Homo sapiens: one gene and its partner. The protein of the gene in region 1 interacts with the protein of each later gene in a pairwise test. Each region holds a gene or a part of one and is shown on either strand. Other genes may lie near its edges.

What was found.
Region 2: the proteins of TCP11L2 (region 1) and CASS4 interact in a two-hybrid assay, tested with the Homo sapiens proteins (one large-scale study listed by IntAct).

The regions. Positions count from the first base shown.
Region 1 is NC_000012.12:106,333,621-106,337,440, forward strand, and holds part of TCP11L2 (T-complex protein 11-like protein 2), read left to right. Parts: intron 1-2,018; coding exon 2,019-2,206; intron 2,207-2,411; coding exon 2,412-2,593; intron 2,594-3,820. UniProt on the Homo sapiens protein: Promotes the migration of muscle-derived satellite cells (MDSCs) during differentiation throught interaction with FMNL2 and therefore may participate in microfilament assembly.
Region 2 is NC_000020.11:56,450,255-56,454,074, forward strand, and holds part of CASS4 (cas scaffolding protein family member 4), read left to right. Parts: intron 1-344; coding exon 345-425; intron 426-1,564; coding exon 1,565-2,875; intron 2,876-3,820. UniProt on the Homo sapiens protein: Docking protein that plays a role in tyrosine kinase-based signaling related to cell adhesion and cell spreading. Regulates PTK2/FAK1 activity, focal adhesion integrity, and cell spreading.

The DNA of each region.
Region 1 (3,820 bases):
TGAATTTATTATGTCTGTAAATATAAACATATTTATATATGTGAAAAAAACAAAATAATTATAAAAAGTAAAGGTAAACAAATACTAAAAACGCTTCACTTCCAAATTATCTTACTATTGTCTATAGTCTTGACATTAAAGAATCTCAAGACTGTACATATAACAGGTATAAAGTACCTGTTATATCTGGATGATGGAAACACTATGTAGCAGTGTTCTGTACTGGGCATCTCTGCTCAACTTCATATTTAATGACTCTCCTCCCACTTGCTCGTTCTACAAATGAGGAAATCAAAAGCTCAGGAGAGAAGTGAGGGCTATAGATACAGATTTAGGAGCCTTATGGGGTATGGGCGGAAATAGAAACCACAGGAATGAGTAAGATGGTCTAGTGAGATTGAAGAGTACCAAATCAGTGGGGATTGGGTAGAGTGCTTGGAAGTATCAACATTTAATGAACAGGCAGAGGAACATCTTCCTGTAATTGAAGGGAGATGCACCTGTCTTCTCAACCCAAGTATGAGATGCAGAAGCACAGCTAGGGGAAACCAGGAAAAAGTGGTGTCAGAAAAGCCAGGGAAAGAGTTTCTGGAGGGCTGTACTAAGAGATGTCTGTATTACAGAGATGTTTAAAAAAGGTAGGAAGGACATGTTTGTTGGATTTGACAACCAGGTGGTGGCCTTAGAAAGGTTATGGGAAGGATTTATTTCAGAACCTCTCTAGCCTATATTCTGTATCTTGGTAGATGGCACAGGCATTCATTCAGATGTCCAAGGTGCAAATCTGGGAGTCATCCTAGAATACTCCTTTCCTATTCTCTACATGTAAGTGGTCACCAAGACCTGTGGGTACTCCCCCTAAATATTTCTCACTTTTTCCCTCTTTACCCCTCACTTCCACTGCCCTTATCCATTCACTCTCTTGTTTGAACCACTGCAATAATTTACTCTCCCTCCACTAATTCAGTCTTTCTTTCCAAGCAATTTTTCTGACATACATATCTGATCATACAGGTTCCATGTTGAAAATAATATTATTCAGCCGGGCGCAGTGGCTCACGCCTGTAATCCCAACACTTTTGGGGGCCAAGGTGGGTGGATCATGAGGTCAGGAGATTGAGACCATCCTGGCCAACATGGTGAAACCCCATCTCTACTAAAAATACAAAAATTATCTGGGTGTGGTGGTGCACGCCTGTAGTCCCAGCTACTCAGGAGGCTGAGGCAGGAGAATCGCTTGAACATGGGAGGTGGAGGTTGCAGTGAGCTGAGATTGCCCCACTGCACTCCAGCCTGGGTGACAGAGTGAGACCCCGTCTTAAAAAAAAAGAAAAGAAAGAAAATAATATTATTCAAAACTCCCCATTCCCATCGCTGGTGTTTGTAACCTGGGGACTGTCAATCTGGTAAGAGAGAATGACAATTGTTTGTGGACATGTGCACGTGATTGTGCACATTCACTTTGGGAAAGGCATATCTCCAATTAGTTATTAAAAGTGGTCCAAGACCCAAAAATGTGTAATAATTATACTCTATTTTCTCTTCAGATTGTATAAATCTTTCACCTTTTACCAAAAATGTGTGAAAATTAATGCCTTTTCTCTAAATACCTTCTCTGCACAAACTCAAGGCTGGCTTCTAACCACCCATCCAATGCCATTTGCTACAACCCTCTTACCCCTAGTTCTTTATGGACCAGCAATACAGATTTGTTTGTGGCATCCAGAATGTGACATCTAGAATGTGCCATATGCTGTCTTTTCCAGAGCACTTACAGAGCTCTTCCTCTTAGATTCTTTCCTGGACAGCCTCTTTCCCACAATTACTAGCATTCATTGTACTCTGTTATAATTGTTAGTTTACAGGTCTGCCTTTCCATCTGGACTGTAAACTCCTTGCAGGGCATGGCTGTGTCTTCTCATTCATGCCCAGCACCCAACACAGCATCTGTCAAGTGGAATACACCAGTGAAGGGATCAATCAGCTGTAGAACAAATATGTGGCCTTTTCACTCTTAGGTGCTCTTGATCAGACTACAGAATGGATAAAAGAATCTGTAAATGAAGAATTATTTTCTCTTTCTGAGAGTGCTTTAACTCCTGGGGCCGAAAATACCTCCAAGCCAAGCCTGAGCCCTACTTTGGTGCTAAATAATAGTTACTTGAAACTGTTACAGTGGGATTATCAGAAAAAAGAATTACCAGAGGTGAGTGGTTTTGTTCTTCACCCAAATTTCCCAGTATTTTTATTCTTAAGTTCTAACTTTGAATCATCTGGTCTGTGTTTCATGTGGTTTAATGACTTTACAAAAATCAGATAAAAATGGGAATTTGGAAATGACATTGCCTGTTTTGTATTTTCATGCTATTGAGCTACCCTTTCTATTTTTATATTTTAAATAAATATGTTAGACACTTATGACAGATGGAGCACGTCTTCAGGAACTAACAGAAAAGCTGAATCAATTGAAAATTATTGCCTGCCTGTCCCTAATTACCAACAACATGGTGGGTGCTATTACAGGAGGCCTGCCTGAGCTTGCAAGCAGGTTAACAAGGATTTCAGCTGTTCTACTTGAAGGCATGAACAAAGAGTAAGTTCCAAATTTTTGCATCTGCTCCCTCTTGTATTAAGGCTCTGCATGTGTCTCAGAGAACAAGAATGACCTTGGACATCTGGATGTGAGATTCAGGACTGTGCTTTAGAGAAGCTTATCTTACACCTTTTTCTAGAATTTCCTTTAATATCTCTGAAGGCTTAGATGTCCTCTCATAGGAAGGGAGAGGTGTTTTCCATGACAAGTGCCAGGGTGAGTGTAGTATTTCCACTTACAATGAATGTGTACAACAGCTTTTCTTTGACAGTGCTTTGGAAAAAAACAAATGAAACACAGAAATCTGCCAAGCTTGATGTTTAGAATTGCGCAATTTTTTTTTTTTTTTTTTTTTTTTGAGACAGAATCTCGCTCTGTCACCAGGCTGGAGTGCAGTGGCGCAATCTCAGCTCACTGCAACCTCCGCCTCCCGGGTTCAAGCAATTCTTCTGCCTCAGCCTCCCAAGTAGCTGGGACTACAGGCATGCGCCGCCACGCCCAGCTAATTTTTGTATTTTTAGTAGAGACCGGGTTTCACCATGTTGGCCAGGATGGTCTCGATCTCTTGACCTCATGACTCACCCATCTCGGCCTCCCTAGAATTGTGCTATTGAAGAGGGCTTTCCTCCAGTTGTTCTGACTTCATCATTTTTCTGCAGTGAAATGTTTACTGACTTCACAAATCCACCTTGCTACGAAGTCTTCAGAAGTGCTGACAATTCTGCCCTTCAGAGATGTGACACAGTCCAGTGAAGATTTTGGTTTTTGCTAAATTTATCTCCAGTATTACACCTTCATGAATGCTAGAATCCCATTTAGATTTTGCATTTACATCATCCAATAGGAATTCCTATCTAAGTCAGAAATTCTTAGTCTTGGTGAATGGCCAGATGGTTCTATGGGTCTCTTATGGATCAGCTTCTGCTGGTTCCCCTTTCAGGTGTCTTCAGAGGCATGTCCTCTTTATTCCTGTAATTGAAGGGAAATGCACCTGTCTTCTCATCCTCCCACCTATTATTCAGAGAGCATATAAATTACTTGATGAAATCCTAGACTATTAAGAGCCAAAAGGAGCCCATGTAGTTACAGAATCCAACTTCTCATTTTGAACTGAAGCTTACAGATAGAATAGAATTTGCCTTGGGCTGCAAACAGAAAAGGGCAGACCAAGGACTGAGCCCTGATCTGACCTTTCTCCTGATTCTGATGCTCATTAATATTCCAGGA
Region 2 (3,820 bases), on another chromosome or scaffold:
CTCAGGTGATCCTCCTGCCTCAGCCTCCCCAAGTGTTGGGATTACAGGCGTGAGCCACCACGCCCGGCTGAGAAGTCTCTTTTTAAAGCACAAAGTCCATTGTTGAATGTATACCCTGTTATGGGAAAAAGGACTGTGATGTCCCCTGCGTTGCCTCAGACAAGGAAGGCGGGAGACCTGTCACCCAGATTTCTACCATTACAGCATCATGACCAAAAGCACCGAAAAGTCTTCAGGAATTTGTGTCTTCCTTTGGAAAAAAACACTGGAATAGGGAGTGTTCGTGATGTGTAGCCATTAGGAAAGAAACATTCAAGTTGTCTGCCTTTGTGGTCTTTCCCCAGGAGCCAGAGAAGCAGCAGTTATATGACATACCAGCCAGCCCCAAGAAGGCAGGACTCCATCCCCCAGACAGCCAAGCAAGTGTAAGTATGAAGAGGTGCTAAGGTGCGGTGTTATGAACACACAAAATCCTCTCAGAAATGTTATTAGCTTGGGGCCAGGCACGGTGGCTGAAGCCTGTAATCCCAGCACTTTGAGAGGCCGAGGTGAGTGCATCACCTGAGGTTGGGAGTTCAAGACCAGCCTGGCCAACATGGCAAAACCCCATCTCTACTAAAAATACAAATATTGGCTGGGTGTGGTAGTGGGCGCCTGTAATCCCAGCACTTTGGGAGGCTGAGGTGGGCAGATCACTTGAGGTCAGGAGTTCAAGACCAGTCTGCCCAACATGGTGTAACCCTGTCTCTAATAAAATACAAAAATTAAAAAAAAAAAAAAAGAAAGAAAGAAATGTTATTAGCTTGGTCAAAAATTAGAATGCAAATTCCTCATAACAGAGACCTTGTTGCATTTGAGGTAAAACCTCTCATTGCACTTGTGTTCAGGAATAGGACTAATTACGTGGTTGGGATAAGTCGTTTAACTTCTCTGTTTTTATGGGCTGGGAGTATTAAGTGAGATAATCCTGCAAAGGACCCGGGACAGTGCCTGGCATGGTGTGAAATTATGTAATGGCTTCTTCTTACGACAGACCTCAGGGGCGTGCTGTGATACAGTACACTTTTATCTGTGTTGGGCAAAGGACTTTATCTGAAATCTGTGTAATCTATGTTTATAATTGGATTCTACCACATGTGTCCCACAGACACACTTACACCCAAGGTCATTAGGGAACATCTTACAAGAAGGCTGGCATTTCGCCGTGTCAGGGGGATGCATAGGGGTTTGGTGGATGGAAAAGAAAGGGTTGCCAAGGGCATTTAGAGCAGAGAAACCAGTTTGGGTAAAATTAAATACACTGGCATGAGTCAGTGTTCTGAGTTCAGGGGAAAGTAAACAGCTTGGGTGGCTGGACCTGTAAGCAGATGGTGGCAGACCAGGTGGGGTCAGCGTGGTGGAAGTCGAAAGAAATGAGGCTCAAAAGAATCCTGAAGGACCTTGAGTGGTAACAGAAATGGGGAGCCACTGAAGGAGCGGCGGAGTGACGATGAGATTTAAACAACGCACTCGCGCCCTCTTTGGAAAGCTACTAACCCGGCAACTATGTGTGGTTCTCCCACAGGGGCAGGGTGTTCCCCTGATATCAGTGACTACCTTAAGAAGAGGCGGTTACAGCACATTACCAAATCCTCAGAAATCGGAATGGATTTATGACACTCCAGTGTCTCCAGGAAAGGCCAGCGTCAGAAACACGCCTCTCACCAGCTTTGCGGAAGAATCAAGGCCCCACGCTCTCCCCAGTTCCAGCTCCACTTTCTACAATCCTCCAAGTGGCAGATCCAGGTCCCTCACTCCACAACTGAATAACAATGTGCCCATGCAGAAAAAACTCAGCCTTCCAGAAATTCCTTCTTATGGCTTTCTTGTACCCAGAGGCACATTTCCTTTGGATGAAGATGTCAGCTACAAGGTTCCTTCAAGCTTTCTGATTCCCCGAGTGGAACAGCAGAACACCAAGCCCAATATTTATGACATCCCTAAAGCAACGTCGAGTGTTTCTCAGGCTGGGAAGGAGCTGGAGAAAGCCAAGGAGGTGTCAGAGAATTCCGCGGGCCATAATTCCTCATGGTTCTCCAGACGGACAACTTCCCCATCTCCTGAACCGGACAGATTATCAGGTTCCAGTTCTGACAGCAGAGCTAGCATCGTTTCCTCGTGCTCCACCACATCCACCGACGACTCCTCCAGCTCTTCCTCGGAGGAGTCAGCAAAGGAGCTCTCCTTGGACCTGGATGTGGCCAAGGAGACAGTGATGGCTCTGCAGCACAAGGTGGTCAGCTCTGTCGCTGGCCTGATGCTCTTTGTCAGCAGGAAGTGGAGATTCCGAGACTATCTGGAGGCCAACATTGATGCAATCCACAGGTCCACTGATCACATAGAAGAATCTGTAAGAGAATTTCTGGATTTTGCCCGAGGAGTCCATGGGACTGCCTGTAACCTCACTGACAGTAACCTTCAGAACAGAATTCGGGACCAGATGCAGACCATCTCCAACTCCTACCGCATCCTGCTTGAAACAAAGGAAAGCTTGGATAATCGCAATTGGCCTCTGGAAGTTCTTGTGACTGACAGTGTCCAGAACAGCCCAGATGACCTTGAGAGGTTTGTCATGGTGGCACGGATGCTTCCAGAAGACATCAAGAGGTTTGCCTCCATTGTCATTGCCAATGGAAGGCTCCTTTTTAAGCGGAACTGTGAAAAGGAAGAGACTGTGCAGTTGACCCCAAATGCAGAATTTAAGTGTGAAAAATACATCCAGCCTCCCCAAAGAGAAACTGAATCACACCAAAAGAGTACCCCTTCCACTAAGCAAAGGGAAGATGAACACTCTTCTGAACTATTAAAGAAAAATAGGGCAAATATCTGTGGACAGGTGAGTTCAGAGTTCCAAGTGATCGAAAAAGGGGCTTCAATTGTTACCTGGAGTAGTGGCTACTAAGATGCTGAGACTCTTTCCATAGTGTATAGGCTTTGGGGAGACACTGGTTCCATTTTCTAGAAAATAAAATTTATGAAAGTAAAATTCTTGATGAAATCTTATTAACAAGTCAGATAAAGATAGGTCAGCATAGGCAGATAGGTCAGTTGATTTGGATTTCTTCCGAAAACTTTTGGCGTTCAAGTTTACCATATTAGAATTAAAAGGGATTTTTAAATTTCTTAAAAATTTATTATTTGAGTAGATTTTTAAAACCTCACCACCAAGTCTCCTTGCATTTTTGAAAGTTATAAATTTAGTCATTCTCAGTGTGTTTCTTAGCAACGAAAGAGGAAGTAGAAACATTCTTTCAAATTGCCCATGGTCTGATCAGCCCCCAGACTTCAGCTACTCTTAGAAATACTTTTCTGAGGCTGGGCCTGGTGGCTTATGCCTGTAATTCCAACGCTTTGGGAGGCCAACGCAGGAGGATCCCTTGAGGCAGGAGTTTGAGACCAGGCTGGGCAACATAGTGAGACCCCAGCTGTACAAAATTTATTTTTAAATATCCAGGTGTAGTGGCTCATGCACTTGGGAGTCTGAGTGGGGGTATCCCTTGAGACCAGGAGTTTGGGGTTGCAGAGAGCTATGATGGTGCCACTGCACTCCAGCCTTGGTGACAGAGCAAGAGCTAATCTCTAAAAAAAAGAAAAGAAAAAAAAGAGTTGGGATATAGTGGCTCACTCCTGTAAACCCAGCACTTTGGGAGGCCAAGGCGAGCAGATCACTTGAAGTCAGGAGTTTGAGACCAGCCTGGCCAACATGATGAAACCCCATCTCTACTAAAAATACAAAAATTAGCTGGGCATGGTGGTGTGCGCCTGTAATTCCAGCTACTCA